4 linked regions of the Homo sapiens genome follow. The protein of the gene in region 4 purifies or fractionates together with the protein of the main gene of each other region. This does not show direct contact. Each region holds a gene or a part of one and is shown on either strand. Other genes may lie near its edges.

Region 1 (2,787 bases), on a different chromosome or scaffold from region 4:
CAGGAAGCTGTTTTGACCTGAAACTGGGGCCTAATATGAGTCTCTAGCAAGACTCAATTAATGAAAGACATTTTTTAAACCATAGGGAAGTGAGGGGGAGGGTGGAGAACCCAAGGGAAAGGCGGCTAATGTAAGGGAAACTACTTCTCCTAAAAGACATTTCATATAAAACAAACCAAAACCAAAACCAAAAAAAACAAAAAACAAAAAAAGGAAAGAAAAAAAGCAAGGACTGCCAAGACTGCCTCTTTCTTATTCTTCCAAAAGCTCCAGCTCCTGAACTGTGGATTCTAACCAAGGTGGGTGGAGCACAGCTTGCACTGCAAGGGAATGAAGCCAATGCGAAGGCCCAGAGGGAAGGGAAGCGTTGTCAGAGTCTGGTGGTAAGCTGAATTCTGTGCCTGTTTAAATGGGGTTGTCCTTGTGGTTGCGGCATTTCCCTTCTCAACTTCAACAGACAATCAGTGGCATTACCCAAAAGTGGAGACGCATTGAGGACAGCACAGTTACAAGTGGGCATGAGTTTTTATTCTCAGTGCACAGCAGTATTGGTTTCTGTTCATCAGCAAAAAGCTTTATTGGCTCCAACAAATTATCCCTTTTAAAACTCCTCTTCTTCTTCTGGTCTCAGTGGAACAACACATTTGAATTTCAGATTTGCAGTTTATAGCATTTTTTTTCCCTAAGAACCATATAAATACATGCAAAACCTTGTACATAGAGCTTAAATAATATCAAAATGCAAATATAGATTGGGTGCACTGTTAAGCTGAATTGCAAATTATGGCAACACACACTGGACTGGGGTATACGTTGCTTTGATATCACCATTTGTTTGTTTATGTCATGCAGACCACAATAGTCAATCTTTTGTTTTTCTTTTTTGTACAAAAATACCAGTGCTTGTTATACTAGTTACTAAAAGAAGAAGAAACTCAAAATTCCTATCTGCGTGCTAATTTGAAAAGAACAACGTAGATAGATTTGTTGGCACATATATATGGCATATTCACATATGGCATATATACATATGGGGAGAAAACATGAACCAAAGGCCAATTCAGTTATGGGAGCTCATCTCCTTCCATCTCTCCTAATCAAGAGCAAAGGGAACAGCAGGCCTAACAGCAGGGTTGGGAAGGCAAAAGGACTGGCACTGAACTAAGTGAAAGGGCGTCTGGTCTATTCAGAGGAAGAGGCTGGAATGGCTTAACAATAGCAGGCATTTATAAGTGCCCACCCTCACCAATGCATCGGGGGTGGTCCCTAGATATGAAAGGTGAGGAAGTCTCTGCATACTGTGATGGTACCACGGGCTGCTTCAATTGTAAGGCAAAGGAAGCAGGAAAGAAAGGAAGGGATGCATTTAGAGGCTTTTCCACACAAGCGAGTGTGCCACGCCCCTCTGGGTTTTCAGCAGTGAGGTAACCATTCAGATTTAACCATGCCAACTCTCCTCTCTGAAGCTCAAGGGGAAGAAGAAACTCAAACCCTAAAGAACCCACAAGTGTCCAGAGGGATTTCTAGGTGATCTCTCTCTTAACCCCTTTAGGGACAGGAGAGTCATTCCAGAGGACAGATGATACTATGGGAAGGATCTAGCCTTAAGACTGTCACTCAGGGCTAGAACCAGCCATTGTTTTATCCATTTAGAATTCTGTCCCCATTTAATATATTGCACAAAATCTTTCTAGGGGAGGGAAGGCATCACAAATAAGATCCTTGCACAAAAACTCACTAATGGAAAACTCCAGGGGGAACAGGAAATAAAAACCATGAAAAATGCAAACCCCAAATCAGAGTATCCTTATAGACCAGGAGATATTCGTGTCTTTTATACCACTCTGCCAGCTATTCTTCAAGAAACACAAATCCAACAGAGGCCCCTGATCCTAATGACTAGTCAGGAAAGATTCTGTCTATCCATCTGCATGGTGGGGGTTGGGGGGAAGATTCATTTCCTGACAGCTGTGTCCCTTGCTGGGTGTTTTCCTGACTATCCACAGTTTACTACCCGTTTTTCTAGGTTTATTAAGAGAGGAAGCTAGGATGATACGTTCTCCTTCTCCCCATCAGACCCTTTTCAAATCCAAAGCACCATTTTGGGGAAAAGTGTTATTAACTTATGCCATATTTACCCACTGCCAGTTGGATCAGTGAAACTGAATAGAAAAAACTTATATAAAAAACATATGCACATAGACACTTAAACTTACCTAATTCCATATCAACAAAATTTATATTAAAAAAGTCTAGAACCCAACAATTTTTCTTCCCTAAGTATAAAGATGGCTGTTTGCAGAAAGAAAGTATGGTGTATTGGTTTTAAAACCAATTACAAATATACTAAGTCACCTGTCATGCCAAACAGCTGGTTATGTGCTCCCTTCCACAGGGCTACATGACGGCACTTTATTTTAAATCCTTTAAACAAAATACATATGGCTGACCCAAAAATATCAGTTTCTGATCTAAAGAAAACTATAATTTTTGCATATATTTCTATATTTTCTCTCCTATTATGGAAACTAGAACACAAGAAAAAAAACCATTGACTTTTAAAAAGTAGACACAAGCCCTCAAGGGTAACCTGTCAGGCACCATGAGAACCTTTTGTGAACAGGAATGGTAAAATAGCCTTCAAAGCTCGTTATTGGCTTGCTATTTAAAATGATCTGAGGTAATACAAGATTTGATAGAATTAAATCTTCTAAAATAGTTGATGAATATATATGTGAAACCTAACACCTTGGGTGAGCTGTTTTTTTCCCCTATGAGTATTTAAGA
Region 2 (7,221 bases), on a different chromosome or scaffold from region 4:
AACACTGTATTTTTGCTGTACCTTTCCTGTGTTTAGATAGATACATGAATACATATTATTGGGTTTCAACTGCCTACAGTAATTGCAGGAATTCTAGTGGGCACGGGGAATGCAGCAACTGTATTCACTACAGTATAACATGCAGTACAGGTTTGTAGCCTAGGAGCCATAGTCTAGACCCTATAGGCTAGGTGTGTAGTAGGCTACACCATCTAGGTTTGTGTAAGTACACTATGATGTTCACACAACAAAAAAACCACTGAGACACATTTCTCAGAATGTATCCCACCATTAACTGACACATGACTGTATATGCATTTCTGTTGGGTACATAACTAAATCGCATATTTTTTTTTTAATGGAGCACACTGTAACATAGCTTTGTAACCACCTTTCTTTTTTAAATCTTCAGCTCACTTCAGTCTAATCTTTTTTCATTTACTATTTCTCAAACAACTCTCCATACCAATAAGTATTTTTGATAACTATTTTTCACAGCTACAGTTTTCCCTTTTAGGCAAATTTGTGCACGTACCTTTTCTTTCCAAGTGTAATTGCTGGGTTAAAGTTTTAACGTGTTTTGAATATTAACTGCTAAACTGACTTTCAGAAGCATTGATACTACCAGGCTATCAGGGTTACCCTGGGATCTCAGGCAATAGCCCCAACGACCAACACCTCTACAACTCTTGCCTATGCTGAGCTCCCTCCTTGTCTCTTTCCCTTCCTTTTATTTGAGTCAGAGTCTCACTGTCACCCAGGCTGGTCTGCAGTGGCACCATCTTGGCTCGCTGCAACTTCCGCCTCCTGGGTTCAAGCATTTTTCGAGCCTCAGGCTCCTGGGTAGCTGAGACTATAGGCGCCCGCCACCACGCACGGCTAATTTTTGTATTTTTAGTAGATACAGGGTTTCACCATGTTGGCCAGGCTGGTCTCAAACTCCTGACCTCATGTTATCTGCCTGCCTTGGCCGCCTCCCACAGTGCTGGGATTACAGGCGTGAGCCACTGCACCAGCCCCCTTCTTAAGTCATTCTTTCTTTGTTTTAGACCTTTCTTCCCAACCTCCTTCTACTTTAGGGCCCAGTTCTTTCAGAATGTTCTCCCATTCCACCTAAGAAACTCTTACTTTCACATTTTTTTTGGAGTTAATCCTATTAATAATATCACCCTTCAAGGCCGTTCCCCTTCTTGATCCCTATTATTGTGTTCATCGTATTGTATTACTGTTGGTGAGATTTGGCTCCACTTCATCCATCACTGTGTGCTCCTAAGGGCTGGAGCAAGAATACAACAAAACTAATAAGTAGGAACTGTCCGGTAAGAAGCCTCTCCTCTGTACCACAAATCACGTTCTCACAGGGACCATTATCTTCTTTATCTCTGCATCCCCAGTGCCCTCTACAATTCCTGCAAAGACTAAGTGCTCAGGACATTATTTGTTGAGTCAATGACAGAATTCTATGCTCAGGGAGCAAGTCAAAGGAGAAGGTTGCTCACTCTACTCCAAATATGGGCACCCGTAATGAATGATTTTTTGGAGGAAAAAAAAATCCCTACAATCCATTTTCCACAGAACAGCCAGAGTGATCTTTTAAATTTGTTTTTGTTTTTGAGACGGAGTCTCGCTCTGTCGCCCAGGCTGGAGTGCAGTGGTGCGATCTCAGCTCACTGCAAGCTCCGCCTCCCGGGTTCACGCCATTCTCCTGCCTCAGCCTCCCGAGTAGCTGGGACTCCAGGCGCCTGCCACGACGCCCGGCTAATTTTTTATATTTTGTTTAGTAGAGACGGGGTTTCACCGTTAGTGAGAATGGTCTCAATCTGCTGACCTTGTGATCCGCCCGCCTCGGCCTCCCAAAGTGCTGGGATTACAAGCGTGAGTCACCGCGCCCGGCCGATCTTTTAAATTTTTAAATCAGCTCATGCCACTCCCTGCTTAAAATCCTCCAGGAGTTTCCCACTGTGCTTTAAATAAAACCCAAACAATGTACTGTGGTCTCCATAATCTAGCCCCTGCTTTCTTCACTGGACTCATCTCCTACCCTTCTCTCCTTTCACTAGACACAAGCCTTGCTGAGCCCCAATTTTTAAAAAAATGTTTGAGTTCTTACCATGGGCACTATTTTATGCACTTTACGTGTGTTCTTACATAATCCTCCTAACAAGTAAGTACTATTATGATCTCCATTTTACAGGTGTGAAAACTAAGGCACAAACAAGCTAAGTAATTTCCCCACAGTCACATCATTAGTAGTTGGCAGAGCTGGGGTTCAACACACTAAAAAAGGCAGAGTAGGGTACAAGGGCATGGACTTTGGAGACAGGCCTAGGAACTCTGTTTACAGACTGTATATCCTTACAGAGTCACTCCTTTTCCCCAGTTGTAAACAGGGGTAAAAATACTTACCTTGCAATGTTGTTGGGAGATTTACAAATATTTGCACCTGGGCACAGTGGCTCACACCTGCAATCCCAGCACCTTGGGAGGCCGAGATGGGCAGATCACTTGAGCCCAGGAGTTTGAGACCAGTCTGGGCAACATACCAAGACCCCTTTCTACAAAAAAAATACGAAAATTACCCAGCTGTGGTAGCATGCGCCTGTAATCCCAGCTACTTGGGAGGCTGAGGTGGGAGGATAGCTTGAGGTCTCCCGAGGCTGCAGTGAGCTGAGATTGTGCCCCTGCACTCCAGGGCGAGAGAGCAAGACCCTGTCTTAAAATAAATAAATAAATAAATAAATAAATAAATATATATATATATATATATATATATATATTTGCAAAACACCTTCGCTCAGGAAATAATTAACAGGAATTCCCACCACAGCCTTTTATGCTATCAGCTTGCACACACAGACACAAAGTCAACATGTAGCAAACTGTTCAGGCTACCTAAACCAGATAAATGGCCCCACGAAGACCAGGAACAGACTATAATCGTCTTTAAATACCCATACCCCAACTTGACCAAAGGAGGCCTCTGCAGAGGCAATTGAATAGTCTTCCAGCAAAGGCTAGCTCATTTTAGTACAAGTGGGAGAGAAACGGGGCAATCTGACCAGTGGTTTAAGGGCTGAGTTGGCCCAGCAGAATTGACTAGGCCTTACCACAGGCTAATAACACTTGCCCTTGGCAAAACGAACGCCAGCTCGGGATTTCTGTAGCTTCAACCAGCTTTGTCCTTTGTGATAGTGCCACCTAGCGAGGGTCCGGAGGCACTACCTACTCCTGGCAGCTGCCAAGACCACTGCGACAAGGTGTTAGCCATTTAGGCCTAGGAAAGGGAATGGGGACCACCCGAGTCAGCACTCCTTCCATGACTCTGTGGAGGAAGCCCATGCTGTCCTTCCCCCAACCTCGTCCAGACCCATGGGGTCTGAAAAGCGCGAAAGGCCTGATATTAACTAACACTTGTACATAACACAGCAGTGATCTATTATCATTCCTCATTTTATGGTGTCCTCGCATCGAATCCCTCCCTGGGAATAGGAAAAACAGGCATCATTCTCATGAGAGCCATTGTACAGATGAGGAAACTGAGACTCGGCGGGAAAGTGGTTAACCCAAGGTCACAAAACGCCATGAGAGCCAGGGCTGGGACGAGAATCCACGCCTCTTCCATTCCGGTTCCCGGCTCCTACCCCGACCACCCACCCGAGTGTGAAGACACAGCATGCCCACCCCCACGGGGAGCAGAGGCTCCAGGATCCTGCGCCGAAGACCAGCATGTGGGAGCAGGATAAAGACTGCACGGGGAAGACAGCACTTCTTTCTTCTCTGTCCATGGAGTGCCGGGCACGCTCGCCACGGCTCGGGGGCGGGGGAAGCGGCGCCCGGGGCAGGAAACAGCGTCCTGCGCGGGTAGCCCCTGGGAGCACGCGGCACCGAGTCACGTGAGAGGGGAGCGCAGGCGAAGGGGCGTCGCGCGCAAGCACGCACGACATACGCAAACTCGCACTGAGGCGCCCACAGAGGCAAGCCCCAGGCCCCGGGTCACATGTGGAGGGTGGCAGGCGAGAACAGGGGGGCGGGAAAGACGGAGAGATCACGTGGAGGAGGCCAGAGCAGGGAAGTCACGTGAGGGGGACGGAGGCGGGGCCGCCTAGGAGGAGGAGGAGGAGGAGGGGCGCGCGGCTTCCGGCGGCTGGGGGGGCCAGCGAGCGGAGGGGGGGGCCTGTCCCGGAGGTGGCGGCGGCGCCATCTTGGCGAAGGGGGGATCAGGAAGTGCGGACCGCGGCGGCGGCGGCGGCGGCGGCGGCGGCGGCGGAGCCCGGAGCGCAGGCCGGAGGCTCCCGGCCCGCCGGCCCCGGAGCGGAGCGGAGCGGAGGATGCAGCAGCCGCAGCCGCAGGGGCAGCAGCAGCCGGGGCCGGGGCAGCAGCTGGGGGGCCAGGGGGCGGCGCCGGGGGCCGGGGGCGGCCCAGGGGGGGGCCCGGGGCCGGGGCCCTGCCTGAGGCGAGAGCTGAAGCTGCTCGAGTCCATCTTCCACCGCGGCCACGAGCGCTTCCGCATTGCCAGCGCCTGCCTGGACGAGCTGAGCTGCGAGTTCCTGCTGGCTGGGGCCGGAGGGGCCGGGGCGGGGGCCGCGCCCGGACCGCATCTCCCCCCACGGGGGTCGGTGCCTGGGGATCCTGTCCGCATCCACTGCAACATCACGGTGAGGACCCCCTCGCGTGCGCCTCTGTGGGGGCCCCTTGTCAGGGACCCAGGATCACTCCATCCAGCTTTTTGCTCTCGAAGGACCTGGGAGGCCGAAGCCCCTCTCAGGGCTCAGTTCTTTCTCTCCAGGTTACATTTGTTTCTGCTGCTTGAGGTTATGCAGTGCACCCAGAATCTCTACCATTGACCCCAATAGCAAGGGACACCCCGACATATGGCGCCTAGACTACCCGTTTCCACGAACCCACCCACATCCCAAGGTTCATGATTTTGGCTCTTTTTGGCTACTCCTCCACAACTTTACCTTGCCACCTAGGAATGCGTCTTTCTTCCCCTTACTCTTATTTCAAGGTTTTAGGCCTCGGCACTGACCCTAACTGCAAAGACCTGGCCTGAAACTCACTGCACATTTCAGCGATGCCCCCTTCTCAGTAGTACCTCTGACTTAGGAGGTTGCCACCTGTGGGATCCCCGCCTAGGCATCCCTCATGCAGACCCTCTTGCTCTCTCAACTTCACCAAGTGATAGTTTGCAATTCATTGACTCCTCTTCCTTCTCTCCTTTGGATTCTTTTTCTGGTGTAACCTCTAACTCTCCTCTTTTTGCCTCAGCTGGTAGCAGTTCTGCCACTCCCCTGCCTGTTCCCTATGGATATGTCCATTTGCCCTGGGTTGTTGCTTTTCCTGGTAATGATAGTGATGTGATGTGCGAGGGCTACCCCCATTTATTCTAAGCAGTAACAGTTGCATTTCTCCCCTGTGAGCGTCATTCCATCCTAGGCATACACCTTACATGTCTCCTGCCTGGTCTACCCTCAGACATCCCTTGAACAGAGAATTGGCTTCTGCTAATTTGGGAATGTCTGGTACTGCATGCTATAGCACTTATATTGGTTGATGTTACCTGCTGTGATGGTATTCTCTCTACCGGAGCAGTAGCTGAAATGCTAGCAGACAGTACTTTATCCAGGCAGGCAGACCTAATCGGAGTAGCCTGGGGAAAGGCAGAGTTGTGAATTCTCTGCTACTTGGGGGCCTGAATTCAACTTACTGGTGTTTTCTGTCCGTTTTCTCAATCAAACCAAGTTAAGATTTGGTGAGGTAAAGCCTCAGTTTGGATTGATTGGTGCCCCACCAAAACTCATATGTCCCATTTCTCTTTTCATTTCCTTTCTTTTTTCCTGCTAGAAAGTTAAAATTGAAGGACTAGGAGTGGCTTAGTTAAGTGAAGACTTGGGCATCTTTGATAATTATTTTTCCTCCAGCATTGAGGATTAGAGTCATGGCAATGCTAAGATACCCAGTAGAGGTGGATAAGGTTTCCCTGGCTTGTGTGGGAACCTCGAGTTAATTTTGTTCCTGAATTAAGCTTCTAATTCCTTAAGGGTAGGTTTGCCCCTATCCAGCTGCTCTTTCTGTTGCCAGAGGCCATTTACTGCGTTTGTCCCTGGCAGGAAGTTAAATTTAGGGGGTCCTCAGCCAGACTCCCCATGGCTATAAAGGAGACTTGGCCTAAACTAGCCCCCTTGGTTTGGGCAGAGAGGGAGTCTGGTCAGGCTGCATTTGGCACCGTGGCTCAGGAATGCTGGGAATGTCAGTAGCGTAGGCTTCTTTCTCCCAGCCTGCCATGTGGAGCCCTACAGCCCACGCCTGGACTGAGAAGGTGGCAGGTTCCCAAGGGAGAGGTGGGGAGAATTGGTCTTTGAGGGGCTCTTCTGGAAGTGGTGTGGGTAGATTCTTGCCAGTACCCTTTTACTCTTGGGTTCTGGAGATACAGTCTAGTTTTTATACTTCTTCCCTACTGAACTCTGCTTTTTTCACTTCAGTGTCATTGTGATGAGGTGATCCCTTCCTCAGCCGATTCTGGAGTTTGAAAAGCAAGCTTGGAGGACTGTTCTGGGTCCAGGGAGAACTTGAAGTCTAGAACTTGTATAGGCAGTGCAGGAGATGAGGAGTCCCCCTTCGCTGTTAGCCAAGTTTGGCTGTGCTAGGTTTCCTGGTTTGTACTCTCGAGGAAAGAAAGAAAAGGTTTCAGTCTGCTTCTCGGAAAGGGTCTTCCCAGGGACTGTTTTTCTTCCAGTTTAGAATTTGTTGTGAAGCTGCTTGGTTAGATGCTGACCTAAGTTGGGCTTTTATGTGTGTGTAGGGGGTGGGGGTGGGAAGCAAAGGGGCTAGAAGTCTTGGGGGGAAGAGGACAGGCAAAATCTGGCTTTTCCCAGAGTCACCCATTTTGATTGCTCTTATTGCTCTTTTCCCTTCAGGAGTCATACCCTGCTGTGCCCCCCATCTGGTCGGTGGAGTCTGATGACCCTAACTTGGCTGCTGTCTTGGAGAGGCTGGTGGACATAAAGAAAGGGAATACTCTGGTGAGGGGGCCACAGGGTAGGGGTACATTTTGTTCTTATGAGGCCCATGCCACAAAGGCATCCTGTGAAAGGGATCCTGAAAAGTGGACGGTACACAGCTAAACATTTAGGGGATGACCTCTCGGGGGAGTTGCTTACTGAAGCCAGAGGGAGACCCTGCATCGGCCCTGGGATTGGTCCATCAGGAGACTCATTCCCA
Region 3 (7,727 bases), on a different chromosome or scaffold from region 4:
CGGGCCTCAGAGCCTATTGAGACATTTGGGACTGTTTGCTTCTACACCAGCACTTTGGGAGGCTGAGGTGGGTGGATCACTTGAGGTCAGGAGTTCCAGATCAGCCTGGCCACCTGGTGAAACCCTGTCTTTACCAAAAATACAAAAATTAGCCGTGTCTGGTGGCCCACGTCTGTTAATCCCAGCTACTCCAGAAGCTGAGGCAGGAGAATCGCTTGAACCTGGGAGGCAGAGGTGGCAGTGAGCCAAAATCGCACCACTGCACTCCAGACTAGCCCACAGAGCAAGACCCCGTCTCAAAAAAAAGTATAGCAGTGTAGAATAAATTGGTATAGAAGCAACAGTCCCAAATGTCTCAATAGGCTCTGAGGACATCACTCTATTAAAATTCATATCAGCATCGATATTCATTTTAATGATCTCAAGATAAAATCAAGTAAAGATAAAACTGCACTCCAGGCTCACCACTGCACTCCAGACTAGGCCACAGAGCAAGACCCCGTCTCAAAAAAAAAGTATAGCAGTGTAAAATAAATTGGTATAGAAGCAAACAGTCCCAAATGTCTCAATAGGCTCTCAGGACATCACTCTACTAAAATTCATATCAGCATCTAAACTCATTTTAATGATCTCAAGATAAAATCAAGTAAAGATAAAACTGCATTGCATAAACTCTGTTTAGTAAATCGAGGACCAGAGAAATACATTTGCCAAAGGGTTTTGAGTTAGAGTGCTCACAAAAGGTTGGTGCTTAAGGGGAACAAATGAGTAAAAATTATTATGGTCATAGACAGCTGAAGTTTAACTGAATTTATTAATTTACCTGAGGTAATTATTATGTATATTTCAAATAAAATAGTAATTCCGTTTTCCTAAAGGTAAAAATACATTAGGTATACATTCCCGAGTCACTGCCCATAAACTAGGATCAGAACAACCAGAATTATAAGGATCAAAATACTGACGTTATTCCTTTAATGCCTTAAAATTAGTCTTTCTTTGTACATTTGGCATAGGACAAAGGCGAGCTCATTTTGGACAGATTTGTTAAACTATCAAGAGGTTGTCAGGCAATTAGGCAGCAGGTCATTACTAAGACCGATACCTTCAAGTATCTATTAAAACCATCATTTTGAAACTGTGAAATCTGGAAAGTGATCAGCTACAAAGGGCCAAATATGGAATGCAGAAGATACAGAATGTGGTGGCTTTGTGTCCGGGATTGGTGGGTTCTTGGTCTCACTGACTTCAAGAATGAAGCTGCGGACCCTCGCGGTGAGTGTTAACAGCTCTTAAGGTGGCACGTCTGGAGTTTGTTCCTTCTGATGCTCAGATGTGTTCAGAGTTTCTTCCTTCTGGTGGGTTCGTGGTCTCGCTGGCTCAAGAGCGAAGCTGCAGACCTTCGTGGTGAGTGTTACAACTCTTAAGGCGGCGCGTCTGGAGTTGTTCGTTCCTCCCCGTGGTCTCGCTGGCTTCAGGAGTGAAACTGCAGACCTTCGCGGTGAGTGTTACGGCTCATAAAAGCCGTATGGTCCCAAAGAGTGAGCAGTAGCAAGATTTATCGCAAAGAGCGAAAAAACAAAGCTTCCACACTGTGGAAAGGGACCTCAGCGGGTTGCCACTACTGGTGGGCAGCCTGCTTTTATTCTCTTATCTGGCCCCACCCACATCCTGCTGATTGGTAGAGCCGAGTAGTCTGTTTTGACAGGGCGCTGATTGGTGCGTTTACAATCCCTGAGCTAGACACAAAGGTTCTCCACGTCCCCACTAGATTAACTAGATACAGAGTGTTGACAGAAAGGTTCTCCAAGGCCCCACCAGAGTAGCTAGATACAGAGTGTCGACTGGTGCATTCACAAACCCTGAGCTAGACACAGGGTGCTGATTGGTGTGTTTACAAACCTTGAGCTAGATACAGAGTGCCGATTGGTGTAGTTACAATCCCTGAGCTAGACATAAACGTTCTCCACGTCTCCACCAGACTCAGGAGCCCAGCTGGCTTCGCCCAGTGGATCCCGCACCGGGGCTGCAGGTGGAGCTGCCTGCCAGTCCCGCGCCGTGCACCCGCACTCCTCAGCCCTTGGGTGGTCGATGGGACTAGGCACCGTGGAGTAGGGAGCGGCGCTCATCGGGGAGGCTCGGGCCGCACAGGAGCCCACGGAGTGGGTGGGAGGCTCAGGCATGGCGGGCTGCAGGTCCCGAGCCCTGCCCCGCGGGAAGGCAGCTAAGGCCCGGCGAGAAATCGAGCGCAGCGCCAGTGGGCTGGCACTGCTGGGGGACCCAGCACACCCTCCGCAGCCGCTGGCCCGGGTGCTAAGCCCCTCATTGCCCGGGGCCGGCAGGGCCGGCCTGCTGCTCCCAGTGCGGGGCCCGCCAAGCCCACGCCCACTCGGAACTCCAGCTGGCCCGCAAGCGCGGCGCGCAGCCCCGGTTCCCGCTCACGCCTCTCCCACCACACCTCCCTGCAAGCTGAGGGAGCCGGCTCCCACCTTGGCCAGCCCAGAAAGGGGCTCCCACAGTGCAGCGGTGGGCTGAAGGGCTCCTCAAGTGCCGCCAAAGTGGGAGCCCAGGCAGAGGAGGCCTGGAGAGCGAGCAAGGGCTGTGAGGACTGCCAGCACGCTGTCACCTCTCAGCTTGGGTGCTGCAACAGGCAAAGCAGCAGCCTGGGTTTCTCCAGCCCCGTCACTCGAACCCACGGGCTCATCACCGCACGGTGCGGCCAGACGCCCTTTCTCCTACGTTGGGAGCGAATCTCCTCGGCTCACACAACCCAGCCACCGGCTCCCACCGCGCTGGAACCCCTCTGGCAGCGAGGGTTTGTCCCAGTGCGGGTGACGCCCGGAAAGGAACCAGTCCCAACAGCGCAGGAGACTGAGGGGTCCCTCCACCAGGATCCGCTCACCTGCTTCCAGGTGTGTCGCCTAAGAGCGGCTCCTGTTCACTTTCGTTCCGCAGGCCGGCCATAGTTACACTCCCTACAAGGCGTCTTGCGCCCAACTCTCGCGACACCTGCTTTCTCCCATCCCGGGTGGCGTGAAGCTGGCAAAACAAGCCTGTAAGTGCGCGTGCGCACCTGACGGTCAGACGTAGGCGGAACGCCCCGAGGTCATAGGCGGGGTCACGCGGAAGGCCGGGCAGCGCAGGGCGAAAGGAGGCTGTGTCCTCAGCCTCCTCCCTCGGCACGCGCCTCCCATCCTGACGGGGACTGAGAGCCCAGGAGAGCTCGGGGCGTGTCCAAACTGCCGCGCCGCCCTGCTCCGGGTTTGTCTTCCTCCCTCCGTTTCTCCTTCCGCTGTATCTAGCATTTCGGTTCCTGGAAAGGTTACCGGAGCTGCGATTGGGGCTGGGACCAAAGTTGAGTCCTGGAAAGGGAGCCTGGAGAGCGGCGGTGCTGGGAGGCCCGGCCAGCTCGATCGCAGGCTTCCACCTGGCGGCCAGTAAGTAGCCGGTCCGGTTAAGTAGTAGGTGCGCTAAGAGCTCCCCGCGCCTCTTAGCGCGCCGTGTACGCGCCTGGAGGCAGGGACCGGGGACGCGGAGCTGGGCGGGAGACTCGCGGGTCAGGGACGCGGGGTGAGGCTGGGGGTGAGAGACAAGGCTGGAGTCCGTGGCGCGCTTCGGAGGGCTGAGATAATGGGGGCGAGCGCGCGGGCAGTCCCTTCCCCCCGTGAAAGGTAGAGGTGGCTTCCAGCTCTCTTCTCTAGCTCGGCTAAATGCAAAGGCGCCTTACCTGGAGGGCTTGTCAGAGCCAGGACTGAAGGTGGGATCTGCTGCTTGTAACCTGCAGGTCCCCGGATGCGCACCCCAACGGCGCCTGCGCCTACGGGGGCCTCAGCCTTGCAAAATGTCACTCAGCAGAGCCTGCTGCTGAAACGTGGGAGTTGAAAAAGGTACAGCACCTGCCTAGCAATGACCAGCTCCTTTCGTCACAAGGAAGATGACATTTTTAGAAAACATGTCATGGGTTTTCACTAGATCTCCATGTTTATTTCTTGGTGGTTATGTATTAACATCTTATCTCTACTATTAGGCTTGTAGGCTAGCTGGCGTCAGTAGTCATTCTGTGTCTCATAAATTACCGTTTTATTAGCGCCAGATACATTGTCATGTAATTTCATTTGATCACAAGTATCCTATGAGATAGGCGAAGCAGACACATTGCTAGTTTACTGAAAATTAAGATCCAGACAAGTTAACCCAGAGTCACTCTGTGTGGAAGTGGCAAAGTTGGAAACCAAACTTAATTTTTTTAAATTAATATTTATGAGCATTTACCCTATGCTAGGTCCTATACTAGTTACACAGTCATGTATGGTATATGCCATCACTTCTGATCTTTGTGTCATTTGTGACCTTGTGTGTATCAGCCAGGCGCAGTTCACTGGTGAACACCTAAACTTGAAACGTGCGGTCTGGGTGCGATGGTTCATGCCTGTAATCCCAGCACCTTGGGAGGCCAAGGCGGGCGGATCACGAGGTCAGGAGATCGAGACCATCCTGGCTAACACGGTGAAACCCCGTCTCTACTAAAAATACAAAAAAAAAAAAAAAAAAAAAAAAAAAAAAAAAAAAGCCGGGCGTGGTGGCGGGCGCCTATAGTCCCAGCTACTCGGGAGGCTGAGGCAGGAGAATCCCTTGAACCCGGGAGGCGGAGGCTGCAGTGAGCCGAGATCACGCCACTGCACTCCAGCCTGGGCAACAGAGTGAGATTCTGTCTCAAAAAAAAAAAAAAAACCAAAAACCTTGAAACGTGCTATTCAGAAATATCTTCTAAATCAAGACCTGATATTTTGTACTTGGATTCAGTCTTGCAGATTCATTTGTAACAGCTCACAAAAACAAGTCAGATTTGTATTATTGGTTCCAAAAAGACACATAGGTAGAAAAGTTAGTATTTTCTTGCCATAATGTCGCTTTATTATATTGTCTTTTTTAATTCCTGGGGGCTAGCAATGTATGGCACATATATAGTGGACAAGGGGATTTTTAACCAGTATAGCAGTAAGCAGAATGGCTCCTAGATAAATATATGTTGGATGAATGCTCATTGAATTACTTCATCTCATCCTTACAACAATCCTCTGAGGGGGGAATTGTCTCATGTGTACAAGGAAATGGAAGGCAGGGAGATTAAGTAACTTGCCTAGGATCATACTACTAACAAGCAACAGAGCTAGAATTCAAGAAATGCAGGACTCCTGATCCTAAGCCTGTGCTCTTTACCACCAGGCTTCTTATGGGAAAAAATGGCAAAGCGGCAAGAAGAATCTTTCCTTATATCTCATAAAAATATATAGTAGATATTCAGTTTTTATCTAAGTGAAATAATTGGCTATCATGTATCAGGGCAGATATTACTTTCTGTTTATAGGTTAAGGTGGCTTACTCAAGGTCACACAGCTGGTAGAGGAATCCCAGCCCTCTGACACTGCTCTTTTCCATTGGTGCCTCCAAGTGATGACTTCAGACCACAAAAGCATATGGAATGAGTACATATACAGCTGGTGAAATCTAAGTAAGCTTAGTGTATTGTACCAGTAGGAAAAAAAAAAAAAGAAAATGTCTCTTAGGAACACACACATAGCATCCAAAGTAAACATTTAAACATATATATATATGTAATTTTTTTTTATAAAGCCCATGGAAAAGAGGAGCTAAATTTGAAGAGATTAGATTATTTCCCGAATGTTTCACACAAGAATATGAGACTCCATTTGGTGCATTTCCTTAGGTGACTGCCCAGGATATTTACCCACACCCCTTTCAAACAAACAGCCGGGCGCGGTGGCTCACGCTTGTAATCCCAGCACTTTGGGAGGCCGAGGCGGGCGGATCACGAGGTCAGGAGGTCGAGACCACGGTGAAACCCCGTCTCTACTAAAAATACAAAAAAGTAGCCGGGCGTGGTGACGGGCGCCTGTAGTCCCAGCTACTCGGAGAGGCTGAGGCAGGAGAATGGGGTGAACCCGGGAGGCGGAGCTTGTAGTGAGCCGAGATTGCGCCACTGCACTACAGCCTGGGCGACAGAGCGAGACTCCGTCTCAAAAAATAAACAAACAAACATCCTATTTTCTTACTCTTGTTCAGTGTAAGAGTAAGGAATTATATTTGTTGAATTATATTTGTGAAGCTAGGGAAGTAGATTTTAACAGTGGATATCTGAGGTATCTAAACCCTTTCTTAGCTACTTAAACTTGTATAGACATTATTTAGAAGTGAAATTACAAGATAAAATTTAAAGTCTTCTTTTTTAGGTAAGGGAATAAGTTCTTGTACATGGTGATATTTTTTAAATTTTCATTTATGCCTTTGAGATATGTATCACCAATGTAAGGATAAAAGTCCAGAAAAAATTAGTATTGCATTGTTAAATGCTTAGGTACCCAAATGACAGGAAATAAAAGCACTAGATAGCATAATAAATGATGAGTGTCACTTTAGCAATAGAACTCATTTCTAGGAAAGACTTTTTAGTTCTTGGCACTGTACTAGAACTTCTATTTTTGTTTCCCTTTGCTTTTCCCTTTCACATTGATAACTGTGTCATTTTAGCTTGATATATACTTCAAAAATAGGTTCTATTTCTGCAGAAGCTCATTGTTGTCTGTCCAGCCTGAAGTGGGGACTTTTAAGTATCTGGCATGACTCCAGATGGTGCCTTATTTTGGTGATTTGGAGTTACGTTCACCCTGGGCTTGGATTTTTATCTGTTCATGGTGGCACTAGATACCCTGGACCCAGCCAACCCTGTCTAGAAAGACTTACGTGTTTAGAGAGTTCCACAAAAACTGTCTTTTATGTTGTTCTTGGAGCTGAAATGGGATTTAAGAAGATTTGTATGACCCCAAACCCCAGAACCAAATTTATACTAACCTATATGTGCGTTTGATTTACTTTCTTTTCCTCATTTATTAGTTGTTTATTAGTAGGTAAATATAGTAAGGAATATGCTGTGTCTAAGTTTGGAGTGCTGACTTTTGTGGCCTGTTATGCAGGGAATTAAAGTGATTTGGGAAGGTTTTCTTTTTTTCTTTTTTCTTTTTTTTTTTTTTGAGACGGACTTTTGCTCTCGTTGCCCAGGCTGGAGTGCAATGGTGCAATATCAGCTCACTGCAACCTCCACCTCCTAGGATCAAGGGATTCACCTGCCTCAACCTCCCAAGTAGCTGGGATTACAGGTGCCCACCATCACACCTGGCTAATTTTGTATTTTTAATAGAGACGGGGTTTCTCCATGGGTCAGGCTGGTCTCCAACTCCCAAACTCAGGTGATCCGCCTGCCTCAGCCTCCCAAAGGGCTGCGATTACAGGCATGAGCTACTGGGAAGGTTTTCTAGTTTGGGTTGAAAACTAGAAATAAGTAAATAATTTAGGCAAACAATAAATATAGTACTTTACAAAATATTTGAAAAGTTCATTGTTCTTAGGTCCTTTCTTGCTTCCTTTGCAACTTTCTAATTCTATATTTTTGCTTTATCTTGGTTTTATCTACCAATCTAGAAGAATATCAAAGTTTAGGAAAATGGAGCATCTCATGAGCAGTATATTACTTTTCTTCTTACTGTAAAATATAGGTGTTGGAATTTTTTTTTTTTTTTGGAGACAGGATTTTGCTCTGTTGCCGAGGCTGGAGTGCAGTGGTGCAACGATGTGCACTGTTGCCTCAACTTCCCAGGCTTACACAATCTTCCCTCCACAGCCTACTGAGTAGCTGGGACTACAGGTGTGCA
Region 4 (7,065 bases):
AAAACCAAATCCAAACGTTTGTTTCTCAGTCACCTTCCACAATATGTGTCATTAGATACACTGACTTCTTAACACTCTCTTCTCTTGGCCTCTGTGATATTACCTTCCCCTAACTGTGAACATGCTCGTAAATGTACCCTGCTTTATAGCTTTCCTGAACAATTCACTATTCCAACTTAATGCCATTTTCCGTTCCATGGCTAATGCTGTTTACTTCTATCTGGAATTATGCCCTTCACCAAGTCTTCAGCTTCTTAATTTGTGTGTGTGCGCATGTTTGAACCTTTTTTTCATATTCTATATGCAATGACACATTTTATCTTGTACAATAATTATAATGGCTGTCTAATCTATTATTCTGGATTTAAACTTTATGATGGTAAAAAGGAGTCTTATTCATAAATGCTCATTTCACATAATTTAACATAATGCCTTATGAGACACCAAGGTTAAAGATTATGTGGAAAGGCTGGGCGCAGTGGCTCATGCCTGTAATCGCAGCACTTTGGGGGGCCGAGGGGAGAAGATCGCTTGGGGCTAGGAGTTCAAGACCAGCCTGGCTAACATGGCAAAATCCCATCTCTACCAAAAATACAAAAATTAGCTGGGTGTGGTAGCTCACACTTGTAATCCCAGCTACTTGGGAGGCTGAGGCACGAGAATCGCTTGAACTGGAGAGGTGGAGGTTGCAGTGAGCTGAGATTGCACCACTGCACTCCAGCCTGCATGACAAAGAGACTCTGTCTCAAAAGAAAAAAAAAGAAAAAAAAAATTACTTGAATAGATGGATGCCCATTTTGGGGGTTGACTTTTTTTTTCTTTTGCAATTACATCTAAAATTCTAATTTGTATCCATGTAATCCTTACCCAGGCCTCTTCCTTAATTCCCATGCTGTCCCTTTTAACTTTCTTTTTGTGAAATTCCTAATTTTTACTGGATAAAATAACATTTTACTTTTATAGAGGCTCAAAATATTTTTGTGACTTGAAAGTAGTTCTGCTGAGTCAGCCAAATATTGCCATAGGGCCTCATATGATTAGCAGAAGTTAAAATAGCAAGTCAACAAAATAATAAAAAAGAAGACATGGGCTGGGCACAGTGGCTCACACCTGTTATCCCAGCACTTTGGGAAGCCAAGGCAGGCAGATCACCTGAGGTCAGTTTGAGACCAGCCTATCCAACATGGAGAAACTCTGTCTCTACTAAAAATACAAAATTAGGTGGGCATGGTGGCACATGCCTGTAATCCCAGCTACTCAGGAGGCTGAGGCAGGAGAATCGCTTGAACCTGGGAGGCAGAGGTTGTGGTGAGCCGAGGTTGCGCCACTACACTCCAGCCTGGGCAACAAAAGCAAAACTCCATCTCAAAAAAAAAAAAAGAAGAAGAAATTATTCTCATTCCCCTTTCCATGGCCTTGTCTACTCAGATATTTAAATACTATCACGGTACCCCCCTAAAATATTGAGAGAAGAATAGAGTCATGGGATGCTAGGGCTGAAAGAAAACTTGGTAATCATCTCTCCTCTCCTCATTTTGTTGTTGTTGTTGTTGTTTGTTTGTTTGTTTGTTTGTAGAGATAGGGTCTTGCTATGTTGCCCAAGCTGCTCTCAAACTCCTGGACTCAAGCAATCCTCCCATGTTGGCCTCACAGTGTGCTGGGGTTACAGACATGAGCCACTGTGCCCAGCCTACGTTTTCTCTGCTTTTATTTCTCAAGTTTGACAGTGAAACTCAGCAAATTAGATTACAAGCATATAATCATTACTAGGGAGGTTCTTGGATTTCAGGTCCGAGGACTGTTAGGCAAATGCTGTTTTTACTACCAAAAAAAAAAAAAAATCACATTAAAAAAAAAAAGATATATGGTATTGCTAATAAAGGGGAAGCTGCCGAGAACTGCATGAACTGAAGTAGCAGGGACTGCAAACAGCAAAATTTTAATAAAAATAGAGTTATCTGTCATGAGCTATATGTTAAATATTGTTATTATCTGTTTTGAAATGAAAGTATGTAGGAGTCAGGGATTAAAAGTCCTTTAGAACAAGGCTGGGTGTGGTGGCTCACGCCTGTAATCCCAGCACTTTGGGAGGCAGAGGCGGGTAGATCACCTGAGGTCAGGAGTTTGAGACCAACCTGGCCAACATGGTGGAACCCTGTCTCTACTAAAAATACAAAAAAATTTAACTGGGTGTGGTAGCACGTGCCTGCAATCCCACCTACTCAGGAGGCTGAGGCAGGAGAATCGCTTGAACCTGGGAGGCGGAGGTTGCAGTGAGCTGAGATCATGCTACTGTACTCCAGCCTGGGCAACAGAGTGAGACTCTGTCTCAAAAAAAAAAAAAAAAAAAAAAAGTCCTGCAGAGCAAGATTACTTTTTACATTTCTTCAAGTTAATTTGGCTAAAAATACCATACCTTTATGTGTTTAAGATTAGTAGAGGATTAAAAAAAATTATTACTAAGTTGACCAGCCGTAATTTAAAGGTAATTAATATCCTGAAACTAAAATTCCACTGTGATAGAGAAAGAAAAGTGGACCCCAGAATCAAATTGTAGTAATAGGATAACAGAGTCAGTAGCAATAAGGAATGGGCAAAAGAATAAAAAAAAGAAAGAGGAAATGGAAAGGGAAAAAAAGTGCAATCAATTATTTGAAAAACAAATTAATGGGGACAGCTGGAATCAAAGTTCAGGGTGAAATACATAGCCAATTCAAAGAAAGGAAAGAAATGATGTAAAAATTCACTATTAATTCCACTATGAAAATATTAAAAGCAAAGACAAATGCAATGTGGAATATTTAGAAAAAGGAAGTTAGACATAGAGATAAGATAAAAGAATTCAAAGTCAGAGAAGGAATAGGGGAAATAGAAGATAGTGACACTCAAACTCATTACCTATAATGAGCAAAACAGGCTAAGCACAAGTCATCAGGTAGGTCTAGGTTTTCTTACCAAAAAACTGAGACAGTAGCTGAAGGCTTCAGCACCTGGATGTCTCCACGAGTCCTGTCTGGTCCCCACACTTAGCCACAGTGAAGTCATGAAGTATGGCAAGAAAATTTGCTGAGCTTTCTCTTCTTCTGTTCTCTCTCTGTTTCCGGCAATAAGTTAAGTCTTATGCTCTAGACCACTATCTGACCTCACAGGAAGAGTTTCAAAGTGAGTCATTTCTAAATGGCTTAGAAAGGCAAAGCAGGAAAACAGAAGTAGGAGTTTATAATCCTGAGACATTTTCTGCAGCACACAGAGAATGGTTAGAGAGAGGGTACCTCTGTACATAGGGTTCAACTTTATAGGTTTTGTTTAGAAATGAAAAAAAAAAGACTCTATGAGATGTGAGGGTTGGAGTGGGGAGTGGTTGGGGAGGAATGACCTGAATAAACTCATTTAATTAATCTCAAATAACATATCTGAAATGCTTGATATATGTGAAAAACGGTGCCATGTCAAAATCAGGATGAATTAAGCTATATTCTAATCTCCAGAGATTCACAATCGAGTGGGAATATGTACCCATACATATACACACAAAGCTGTAATACAAACTAGGCTATAATAATAGAAGTAACAATAGAAGTAAAATAATAGAACACTCTAGCCAGGGGTATATATAACCCAGGGCAATCTAGGAGAGTCTTAAGATAGAAATAAGATGTGGGCAAGTACTTAATTAAGTACCTGTAGGAATTCTAGAGACAGAAAAAGGTGAAAAGCTGCTTAGGCTATAAGTGGAGCCTAGTCAAAGGCAGGTAGGTGGTAGAGGGCAGGTAGGTGGGGAGGTAGGTGGGAGAGCTTAGTGGTCACTGGAGAACAGGCTGGAGTCTAGGTGCTGTTTCATCAGGAAGGAGTACAGAAGACTGAAGGTAATTCCTGCTTAATGAATACTATGCTGTAAATAATTCTTATATTATTCTTTTAGATATATGCATATACTCTTTTAGATATATGCATATAAAATAAAGTTTATTTGGGTCAAATGTATTTGAACACTGTTGTCTGTGATATAGGCTTCAGTCTATATTAATCAACTTGTCCAAACCATAATATCTGCTCCTCTGCTTGTTTGCAGTCAAGTCACCACGGAATATTTTTGAGGCAGAAAGATCAAAAGAAAAATGCCAAGAGTTGAGTAGTATTTATTAGTTTATTTCCATTGTCATCATCTAATTACAAAAATAGAACATACTTTGTTCTAGAAGAGATAAATTGAAATAATACAGAATTATAATGGGTAAAAAAAATGAAAGATTTTCTTTTCAATTCCACTGCTCGAAGTAACTATTTTTAATAGGTTAGTGTTCATTCTTCCTGATTTTTTTTTTTCTGAATATAGCACACATTTTGTTTGTTGGAGACAGGGCCTCAGTCTGTCGCCCAGGCTGGAGTGCAGTGCCACCATCTTGGCTCACTGCAACCTCTGCCTCCTAGGTTCAAGCAATTCTCCCACCTCATCCTCCTTAGTAGCTGGGACTACAGGCATGTGCCACCACAACCGGCTAATTTTTATATTTTTTCGGTAGAGATGGGGTTTTGCCATGTTGGGCAGGCTGGTCTTGAACTCCTGAGCTCAGGTGATCCACCTGCCTCAGCCTCCCAAAGTGCTGTGATTACCGGTGTGAGCCACCCCACCCGGCCTAACACACATTTTTCTAAAAGGTAGTTTTGAACATAAATGGGATGGTAATTTATGTGTGATTTTATGTCTTGCTTTTTTACTTAACAATATATCAAAACATACTTCCATGTTAGTACATATAATCCTATTGATTATTTTGGGTTTTCTTTCCTCCAATATTTGGAAATATTGAATAATATAGGTATCCAGAAAGCATATAAAATGTAGGATTATCATATATGTACATATATATCTAATTAAAATATATTTTATAAAAACAATTAATTCCCCATGGTAAAAATTAAATATGAGAAGATTAAAGTAAAAACCAAAATTTCCTAAACACCTAGCTATCCTCTTTCCACTTTCCAGATGTAGTCTCTCTCTTAAATACGCATATTCTACTACGCATATTGTTTTGTTCTATTTTTTCCACTTATCTTTTTATATCAGGACATCTTGGCCCAAATTACACTTTTTTTTTTTTTTTTCCTGAGACAGAGTTTTGCTCTTGTCACCCAGGTTGGAGTGCAATGGTGCGATCTCGGCTCACTGCAACTTCTGCCTCCTGGCTTCAATCGATTCTCCTGCCTCAGCCTCCCAAGTAGCTGGGATTACAGGTGCCCACAACCACACCTGGCTAATTTTTTGTATTTTTAGTAGAGACGGGGTTTCACCATGCTGGCCAGGCTGGTCTCGAACTCCTGCTCTCAGGTGATCTGCCCACCTCGGCCTCCCAAAGTCCTGGGATTACAGGCGTGAGCCACTGCGTGCGGTCCCAAATTATACTTTTTAAGTTGCTCCATATTATTCCACTTACTTAATTATTTTTCGTGGAATATTGTTTTTATCCAATTTTAAATGATTATAAACAAAACTCAATGAGCACTATAGTATTTACATGTATTTCTGTAGAATAGAGTTTTAGAATTGGAATTGCTAAGTCTAAGAGCACACACTTTTACATTTTGAAAGATACAGAATTTTCCACTAAAGAGACTTCACAAATTGTCACACTAAGTTCAGTACCATAAACATATACTCTGCTTCTGCTCCTGCTCCTGATACAGTGTGTTGCACTGCGGAAGATGGAGGAGGAATGAGAGATGTATATAACTGTAATACAGTAGGGGCTGTTAGGAGGGCACAATACACCCTGGGAATATGAAACCGTAAGAGACTAATTCTCATGGAAGCAAACCCACGATGATGCACTGAAGAGGTAGCATTGGGGCCATAAGGATGGGTAGAAATTTGTCAGGCAATAGTACTGTAAAATAATACCTTGTCTCTCTCTCTCCCCTACCATGAATTTCTTGTCTGTCTCCAGTGGCTGCTACCTTGCCTGGTATAACAGGTCTGTGGCACCAATAAGTGAATGAATGTTTGTTTGAAAAGGATGTTGACATCTGAATATAATTCAAATAATTAACTTGAGTCCTTAGAGTTGTTTCTGGCATGAATTCACTTTTACTAATTTCTCTCTCTCTAAAGATTACACAGCAATGTGGCTGGGTGTGGTGGCTCATGCCTGTAATCCCAGCACTTTGGGAGGCCAGGGCGGGCGGATCACCTGAGGTTAGGAGTTCGAGACCAGCCTGGCCAACGTGATGAAACCCTATCTCTACTAAAAATATAAAAATTTAGCTGGATGTTATACAGCAATTTAAACTGGTTCAAGAGCTCCCAGCTGTGTTCTTTGGATTTTTCAGGAAGAAAATTACTAAAAACTTGTTGTGAATAGTGCTCCTGTTTCTGGATGACCTCTCTCTCTTCTTAAAAAGTACTGGTTGTTTTGTGGTGTATTGTGGAAAGCTCTGAGGAAGTTATGTGATTCACTTCTGTTTTGTTCTATTCTGAATATCTAAATATAAATTTCTAAAAGCAGAGATCAGATGCTTTGGAAAAAAGAAAATTTGAATGTATGTTGCAAAGGCAGCCATATTAAAACCTTTTACCAGTCACTTGACTAATTCTACACTGTAATTGATGGAGATCTGTATTAAAGCTTGTTTGGCCAAAATAAAAATGTTAGAATCACAGATCTCTAGCTTGTTTTCTCTGAGAGAGTTAAATACATTATAAAGTTACTGTCCTTAAAGACTTCAACAAAAAATGATTAAATCCGTTATTAGATAATTTGTAGTAACCTATGCTCTAAATTAAATATAACTAAGTGCCAAAAACTGTGGATGACACAGACAAATGCAATGGCTGGTCAGCAAAGGGTAAGATTGATTGATGGTGGCTAGAATTAGCTGGAAAATTTTTATGGAAGAAAAGATTCATGAGGTGAATAGAGCACTAGACCAGGAATGTGGAGACATACATTTGACTTTCAGTTTTGTAATAACTACTCGACCTTGGGCTAGATACTTGACCTAGAAATTTGTTGTTGTTTTCTTAGGTGGAAAATTAAAGGTTGGATTAAATGGTCTTTCAGGTTT

What was found.
Region 1: the proteins of C3AR1 (region 4) and ATP2B4 purify together in Homo sapiens (affinity purification with mass spectrometry; 2 studies listed by BioGRID and IntAct, with this or other methods). This does not show direct contact.
Region 2: the proteins of C3AR1 (region 4) and UBE2Q1 purify together in Homo sapiens (affinity purification with mass spectrometry; 2 studies listed by BioGRID and IntAct, with this or other methods). This does not show direct contact.
Region 3: the proteins of C3AR1 (region 4) and MFSD8 purify together in Homo sapiens (affinity purification with mass spectrometry; 2 studies listed by BioGRID and IntAct, with this or other methods). This does not show direct contact.

What each region holds. Positions count from the first base shown.
Region 1 is NC_000001.11:203,741,801-203,744,587, reverse strand, and holds the end of ATP2B4 (plasma membrane calcium-transporting ATPase 4), read right to left. Parts: 3' UTR 507-2,787; downstream 1-506. UniProt on the Homo sapiens protein: Calcium/calmodulin-regulated and magnesium-dependent enzyme that catalyzes the hydrolysis of ATP coupled with the transport of calcium out of the cell. By regulating sperm cell calcium homeostasis, may play a role in sperm motility.
Region 2 is NC_000001.11:154,555,661-154,562,881, reverse strand, and holds the start of UBE2Q1 (ubiquitin-conjugating enzyme E2 Q1), read left to right. Parts: upstream 1-4,219; 5' UTR 4,220-4,328; coding exon 4,329-4,655; intron 4,656-6,917; coding exon 6,918-7,022; intron 7,023-7,221. UniProt on the Homo sapiens protein: Catalyzes the covalent attachment of ubiquitin to other proteins. May be involved in hormonal homeostasis in females. Involved in regulation of B4GALT1 cell surface expression, B4GALT1-mediated cell adhesion to laminin and embryoid body formation.
Region 3 is NC_000004.12:127,962,170-127,969,896, forward strand, and holds the start of MFSD8 (major facilitator superfamily domain-containing protein 8), read right to left. Parts: upstream 3,005-7,727; 5' UTR 2,965-3,004; coding exon 2,903-2,964; intron 1-2,902. UniProt on the Homo sapiens protein: Outward-rectifying chloride channel involved in endolysosomal chloride homeostasis, membrane fusion and function. Conducts chloride currents up to hundreds of picoamperes.
Region 4 is NC_000012.12:8,063,323-8,070,387, forward strand, and holds the start of C3AR1 (C3a anaphylatoxin chemotactic receptor), read right to left. Parts: upstream 3,038-7,065; 5' UTR 2,956-3,037; exon of another isoform or gene 2,899-2,955; intron 1-2,898.